2 linked regions of the Homo sapiens genome follow. The protein of the gene in region 1 interacts with the protein of each later gene in a biochemical or structural test. Each region holds a gene or a part of one and is shown on either strand. Other genes may lie near its edges.

Region 1 (4,009 bases):
GGTCCACCATGTCCTTCCGAATCAGCTTCTCCACGCATTCGAGGGTGACCACAGCCCCACTACGGTGAGGCCGAAGGCGGGAGACTCTGATCAGGGGCCTTCCTGGGGACCTACTGGCCCCAAAGCCGGACCGCCCCGCAGGTTCCCGAGTGGTCCCTTCCCTCCCCTCCCAGGTGACTCACGAGGGCCGCAGCACAGCGCAGGGGGTGGCGTTGCTCAGGCTGTCGCGGGTCACGGCACACACGTAGCGCTCGCTGCGGGTGATGAGCCCCACGCGGTCCACGGAGCTGTCTAGCGGTGTGAAGTGCACGGGCGTCAGGTCCGACATGCGCAGGGGCTTCCCTGACATGGGGCAGGTCACCGTGCGGGACTGCAAGGGGCAGAGAGAGGCGGGCTCAGTAGGCAGGGCTGGCGCAGGTGGAGAGCGCGTGGTCCCTGTGCGTGAGGAGGACGGTGGGGAACCCTGGCGCCCTGGCACCGTGCGTGCCGGGGCGCTGTGGGGGCTCACCGGCTTCTCCAGCTTGGTGGCCTTGGCTTCGGGCGTCAGCGACGGGATCCAGAAGCTGGGCAGCACTTTGTCCTTGTCCTTACTTGGAGGACCCACACTGGGCCCAGGTTGGACATCATCTGTGGGGGAAGGAAGGGACTCAGATGCCGCCCCCTGGGCCCGCCCAGCCCGCGGCGCCCCGCCCCCCAACCCACAAGAAGCCCAACCTGAGTCACCTGGGCTGGTGCCCGAGAGGGCCTTGGCTGTGAAAGGGTTGAGGGGCCGGCTCACGATAGCCGACTCCTTCTCCAGGAAGCCCCGCACATGGTCCTGCGAGGCCGCCCGCTGAAGCTCCTTCTGCTCCTCGCGCCGGGTGCCCCGCTGCTTCTCGTAGGCCTGCGTCGGGGAAAGTGGGCTGAGCATCTGCCCGTGGGGCTGGGGGTATCTTCCTCCCATTTCACAGGTAGGTAAACTGAGGCCCACAAAGGGGACCCTCTGATGGAGGCACTATGTGGCAGAGGGTGGTAACTGCCACCCTGGGTGGGTGTGAACCTTACTGCGTTGTATAGCCAGACTGCCAGGGCTCAAAGCCCATCTCTGTCACTCTGTGGCCTAAGTGAGCACTATGACCTCTCCTGGCCTCAGTTTCTTCATCTGTAAAACAGCCTAACAGTGGTTACCCACCTCAGCGGCTCACTGAAGGGTTACATAAGGTGAGTGTTTACAGCATGGAGAGCCTCACCTGGCACTCAGCTAAGCATTTAATTAATGTCACCTGCTGGCCAATTAAGTTTTCTATACAGTGCATGCCCCAGCCCGTGTTTGGGACGGGGGATGTAGACTTCAGATCTAAGGGAATGCTGAGGAGCCCATGTCTATGGACGGACAGTGAGTGAGGACGGGAGAAGTGAAGCCATGACCTGAGCTCAGCCCTGCCTGGCGCACAGCAGTTGCCTGGGCGGTGCTGCAGTTCCAGACCACCCTGGGCCACCCAGCTGAGTGAGGAGGTAACAGTGACAGTGATGGATGCTCATGAGGGCCTCCGACATGACCACCAGGCTGTGTGGAGGACATGGGCACAGGGGGAGCCACCTGCTTGGGACAAAAAGCCCAATAAGCATGTGACCTGTAGTGTTTCCTGAGCGCCAGCAACCAGGCAGGGGAAGAGGGGGACAGACCCACTGTGCCTCAAACAGGGCCCCTCCTACCCATCAAATGGCTTTGTCCATGGAAGGCCAGGCCGGGTTCCCAGTAACACGCCTTGAGAATGCTCATCTGCGTGTACCTCCCAGGTGCCCTGCTGTGTCCTCTGATTTGGCCGTCAGCCCGTTTTACAGACGATGAAACTGAGGCCCAGAAAAAATGAGGTGATGTCAATTCACGTAGCACATCTTTTTTTTTTTTTTTTTTTTTGAAACAGAATCTCGCTCGGTTACCCAGGCTGAAGTGCAGCGGTGCCATCTCAGCTCACTGCGACCTCTACCTCATGGGTTCAAGCGATTCTCCTGCCTCAGCTTCCTGAGTAGCTGGGATTACAGGCGCCCGCCATGCCCGGCTCAATTTTTTTTTTTATTTTTTTATTTTTAGTACAGACAGGGTTTCACCATGTTGGCCAGGCTGGCCTCTAACTGTTGACCTCAAGTGATCCGCCTGCCTCGGCCTCCCAAAGTCCTGGGATTACAGGTGTGAGCCACCACCCCCGACCCATTTAGCATATCTTTACTAAGGACCTAAGCTACAGGGTGGGAAAACTCGAAGTCCATAAGGGAAAGTGGGCATGTGTCAGACAGCCACATGTACAGCTACAACTATGCTAAGTGCTAAGAGAAGAGGTGACTGGGGCAGATCCTGGGGACTGGCAGGAGCTCAGAGGAGGCAGCATCTGGGCTGAAATCGGTGAGAAGGATTTGGCCGGAAGCAGGGGAGGGGAATGGTGTACCAGGCAGAGGGAACTGAGATCAGAGGGCTCTGAGTGGCTCTGCCTGTGAGCTCAGACTCAAAAGCTCCTGCCTCCGTGTGCCGCCTCCTCCCCATCCCCATCACCTTCATCTGCCGGGCAATCTCCTTCTTCTGGTGCAGAATGTACTCCAGGATGGCCTCACGCTCATACAGGTAGCCATCTGGGCTGCAAAGACAGGGTGCAATGAGAAAGAAAGAAAGTGATCCTCCCGCCTCGGCCTCCCGAAGTGCTGGGATTATAGGCAGAAGTCATCATGATCAGTCCCAAGTTCAATTATTTGCTAGAATTCACAGAACTCAGCAAAGCTGTTATACTCATGGTGATAGTTTACTGCAGTGAAAGGATGCAGATTAAAATCAGCAAAGGAAAAAGGCACATGGGGCAGAATCTAGTAGAGACTAGATTTGAGCTTCCAGCTGTCCTCTCCCAATAGAGCTGCAGGGAAAGTGCTTCATTCTCTCAGCAACAATGTGTGCCACATATTGTTGCAGCCACGAGTTCGAGACCAGCCTGGGCAACAAAGTGAGCTCCCCTCTCTACAAAAAACAAACAAAAACGCCAGGTGTGGTAGTGCACACCCGTGGTTCCAGCTACTCGTGGGGGCTGAGGCAGGAGGATCACCTGAGCCTGGGATATCAGTGAGCCAAGATGTCCCCATTGCACTCCAGCCTGGGCAACAAAGTGAAGACTCTGTCTCAAAAAAAAAAAAGAAACCTGAAGGTGGCCTTGGGGGCCCTGATCATTAATTACTGTCTTCTACAAAATATACCACTAATTGAGCACGTATTTAGTGCCTGGACTCAGCACCTGTTAAGCCTTTGCCCTACCATCAGAGGTAGGTCATGGGAAGTGTCCAAAGGTGAGCTGCTCCGATGGCCTCGGCAATGCTCTGAGAGCCCTACACCCCATTAGAAGTATGTTCCTTTCCATATGTTCCACACTATGAAACAGATGCTAGGATCATGCCCATGTCCCATGTGAGAATACAGAGGCTCTGAGGATAAACTGCTCATCCAGGGTTCCCTGGCTGTGCAGGTGGCCAGACCCACGCACACAGCCTCCTCCTGGCGGTTCCCTTGCTCTCCCCACCCAGACCTACCCATCCCTGTTCCCAGCTCACGTGACAACAGGATCGTGGCAAGGCTGCAGGGAGAGACAACAGCAGTCGAAGTCCTTCACGGCATCCCGGCTCAGTCGAATGTTCTGGGTCCCATAGCCCGAGGCCGCTGGGGACAGAGATGGGCAGAGTGATGGAGGGGCGGAGCAACAGGAGACATGTCCGTCTCCAAAGCCCCAGAGAGAGGCACAGAGACAACGCGGTGGTGGGGGTGGGGGACTCAGAGAGAAACAGGCAGTTGGGAGCCGCTGCCTGTGTGCTGGGGCCACGGGCTGAACCCACAGGGAGTTGTCAACCCTGGAGGGTGAGAGGCAGACAGGCCTGGTCACTGAGTGGCAGCTTGGTGGAGGGGCTGACGGCTGACTCCCCTCCACCCTTCTGACTGTGACCAAGCTCAAGTGCCTGTCCCTCTTTGGGCCTCAGTTTCTTCCTCTGGAACATGGGG
Region 2 (3,500 bases), on another chromosome or scaffold:
TTCCCACTTCAGCCTCCCCAGTAGCTGAGACTACAGGCGTGCACTGCAACACTTGACTAATTTTTTTTTTCTCTCTCTCTTTTTTTGGTAGGGATGGTCTCACTGTGTTGCTGATCTTGAACTCCTGACCTCAAGCAATCCTCTGTCTTGGCCTCCCAAAGTGTTGGATTACAGGCATGAGCTGCGACTCCTAGCCAGAGCTGCTTTTTATATGTTTATTGGCTATTTGGATGTTATCTTTTGGAAGTGACTATCGAAATCTCTTATAATTTTCTGTGTTGTGTGTCATTTTTCTTACTGATTTGTAGACTTTCTTTACACTTTTTGTAGATGAACTCTTTTTCAGTTACATTTGTTGGAGGATCCAGGGGCAGTGGCTCACGCCTGTAATCCTAGCACTTTGGGAGGCTGAATTGGTTGGATCACTTGAGCCCAGGAAATTGAGACCAGGCTGGGCAATATAGCAAGACCTCATCTTTTTTAAAAAACAAAACAAAACAAAACAAGAAAACCCACACATTTGTTAGAAGTATTTTTCATTCTGTGACTTGCCTTTTCATTTTTTTGAATAGTATATTTTTATAAATAGAGATTATTAATATAATACAGTTGATCAGTATTTTTCTTAGGGTTACTGGTTTTTCTGTCCTGTATAAGAAATACTTTTCAACCCCAAAATCCAGGGAAGACATTTCCGTTATCTTTTAGAACTGTATGACTGGTACTGTAGCTACTAGATCCATGTGGCTATTCAGATTAATGGGGAGTTGAGTCTGTTCTCTCTCCCCTAATGCAAGACCCTGTTGCAGTGGTCCCTGTCTCCATGGCCCTCTTTAAAGTCAGCCTTACTACCTTATAAATAAGTAAATAAATAAATTTAAATTATTAAAAATAAATTGTAGAATTAACTTCCTTAGTTGCAGTAGCCACATTTTAGGTGTTCAGTGTGTGCCTAGTGCTCAACATGACTAGTGGCAACCATACTGGACAACACAGATACAGACTATTTCCATCATTGCAGAAAAGTTCTCTTGGGTCCTGTTATCCTAAAACTTAATTATTGTACCTTCACATTTATATCTCTTATTCATCTGTAATCACTTTACGAGTGGTTTTGGGAAGGGGTCGAGCTTCATTTTATTTCCTATGAATAGTCAACCTAACACCATTTAGTGAAAAGACCATCCTTTCCCCATTGCCCAGCAAGGCAACCTTTGTCATCATTTAGGCCTGTTTCTGGGCCATCTGTTCTGTTTCATTGGCACATTGGTGTATCCTCATGCCAGTACACAGTCTTTATGACTTTGCTTTAAAACTTGGTTATGATGTCCTTTAGTGAATTCTGTTAGCATCTGTGTTGAAAATGTGTGATTTTGGTTTTGTGTCCTGTGTTTGTAATGTATGTAAAGTATGTGACATAGCTCATTCTAAATCCTGCTTTGAAAGTCTTTATTGAATGCCTGTTATATGTGCCAAGTACTGTTATAGGTGCTGGGGAATAAAGCACATCTAAACTTACTGTAGAAACTTTCATGCAAATAGATTGTATGGTTAGGAAGATGATTCTCATAGTGATCATAAAGGCAAGCAAGAAAAGAGAGGGAGGTGAAAATGCTGTGCAGGTAAAGCCAGTATGAATTGTTGAAGGATGTGTCACAATTCTGTATGACTGTAGGAGAGGTTTTTAAAACAAAAACATTGTGTTTGATTTTGATGCATTCTCATTTGAGTGGCTCAGTGTTGAGTATGCGGTTATGTGTCTTCTTATTCAGGCTTGCTCACTGTACTTTGTTTGTGCAGGGAACAATGCTATCATGATCATTATAATGTAAACATCCCCTCCCAAAGTGTTAGGAAAAGTCTGCTGCAGCTCCCTGTGGTCTACTGTCAGTTACCACTTGTACCCATCTGTTTTATAGCCTCTTCAGTTTTGTTACTGCTGCTGTCATTTCTGCCATTACTCTTTGTCCTGTGGACTTGTTTTTAAAAGTTCTGTTATGATCACTTTAATAAAGTTTCAGGAGAGAGGGGAGGCTAATGCATGTGCTCAGCCTGGCATCTTGAGCTTTTTAGACAGAATTTTCTCCTTTTGTGATACATTAATTTATTTCCTGTTGCAAAGAGATGGAGCTTCTTGCAGTCCACGAAACTGCCATATACCTCTATGATTTTGTTTTTGGATTCTGTAAGATACCATGTTTAGTAGACCTGTGTTGTTGTCCACGAGTCTACAGGAAGATGTTCATGTTTTGTTTCAGAAAATATTTCTGTTGTTTTGTGCTTTTCTTAACTCATCAAATACAATGTGTGGCTCGCCCTTGGCCCTTCATATTGCTTACCTTAATTGTGTAGACCATAACCAGTTTCTACTTTGACTAAAGTTTGACGTACACAAGTTACTTGAATGTGGGGATTCTGTCTATCCCTCTACGCCCTAGTGTACATAGTACTATATATTATAGTCTCTTTAAGTGTTAAATGAAAAACCAGTCTAAAATGCAGGATTTATATTAAAAATCGAGTTGCCTGCTTAATGGTATTGTGGTTTCCTTGTAGACTATAATGATAAATTTTGTGAGACTGGGTGAGTCATTTTAGGTAAAAGATTTGTGGAGCTTTAAAGTGATACTGGAGTATTTATATATGTTAATGGAATAGGCTGTCTAATTTTGTGTATGGGTATGGTGATGAGACCAAGGCTCTGAGTCTGATTTTTACCCCTTGTGTATCCCCGATATGTGGATCGTTTTGTGGGACATGTATTCTTAACATTGGCAGACTTGCCCTCTAATAACTGATAACTGCTGTCCAAGGGTTCAAATACAACCATCCATGAATGAACAACCCAGATCATCAGGCTGCTGGAAAAAACAACCCAAAACATAGACTTTCAAGATGATTCAGTGAAGTTTCCTTTTGATATGGAGAATAGTAATAGGCTGTTTTTATTATCAAGAAGTTCTAAACATTTCACTGGGTAACTCACTTTTACTTAAAATAGTTGACTGTCAATAATATCTCATTCTATTTTTTACTTAAACTTTTTCCATAGGTGGTTCTTTGAACTAGACTTTCAAATTTTTTTATGAAAATGTTTTTAATCGTGTGATAATAGGTCAAAAGATGAAATTCTGAACATGATTATAATTCTCACTTTTGCTGAGATATTAATGCTAACCAGAGTAGTTCAAAAGTAGTCCCTTTATGAGATAGCTTAAATTACATTTTTTCAAAGTGATACTAAATGAAATTAGTCATCAGTGTGTGCCAGGTTCATAAGATGAGAAAGCAAATTTAAGGCGAGTAAGCAGTTGTTGATGGGGGTGCATGGGGCCATTGCTGGGTAGTGCTGAATATGGACTTGATTGGTAGCAAAGCTGTCTGGAACAGTGGTCTTGGGGTGGGAGGTAGGGGTCAAATGGTATCCCTTCTTTTATAAGAGCTCTTTTTTTAAGCTTTCAGCAGCGAAATAACCAAAAGGCGGGCAGCAGAAAGGAAAA

Evidence for each region. The genes of interacting proteins can lie anywhere in the genome.
Region 2: the proteins of NOSIP (region 1) and PPP2R2A form a complex in vitro, tested with the Homo sapiens proteins (one study listed by BioGRID).

Annotation. Positions count from the first base shown.
Region 1 is NC_000019.10:49,556,367-49,560,375, forward strand, and holds part of NOSIP (nitric oxide synthase-interacting protein), read right to left. Parts: intron 3,674-4,009; coding exon 3,568-3,673; intron 3,539-3,567; exon of another isoform or gene 3,069-3,538; intron 2,984-3,068; exon of another isoform or gene 2,613-2,983; coding exon 2,531-2,612; intron 884-2,530; coding exon 724-883; coding exon of another isoform or gene 715-723; intron 628-714; coding exon 509-627; intron 371-508; coding exon 183-370; intron 60-182; coding exon 1-59. UniProt on the Homo sapiens protein: E3 ubiquitin-protein ligase that is essential for proper development of the forebrain, the eye, and the face. Catalyzes monoubiquitination of serine/threonine-protein phosphatase 2A (PP2A) catalytic subunit PPP2CA/PPP2CB.
Region 2 is NC_000008.11:26,350,508-26,354,007, forward strand, and holds part of PPP2R2A (serine/threonine-protein phosphatase 2A 55 kDa regulatory subunit B alpha isoform), read left to right. Parts: intron 1-3,500. UniProt on the Homo sapiens protein: Substrate-recognition subunit of protein phosphatase 2A (PP2A) that plays a key role in cell cycle by controlling mitosis entry and exit. Involved in chromosome clustering during late mitosis by mediating dephosphorylation of MKI67.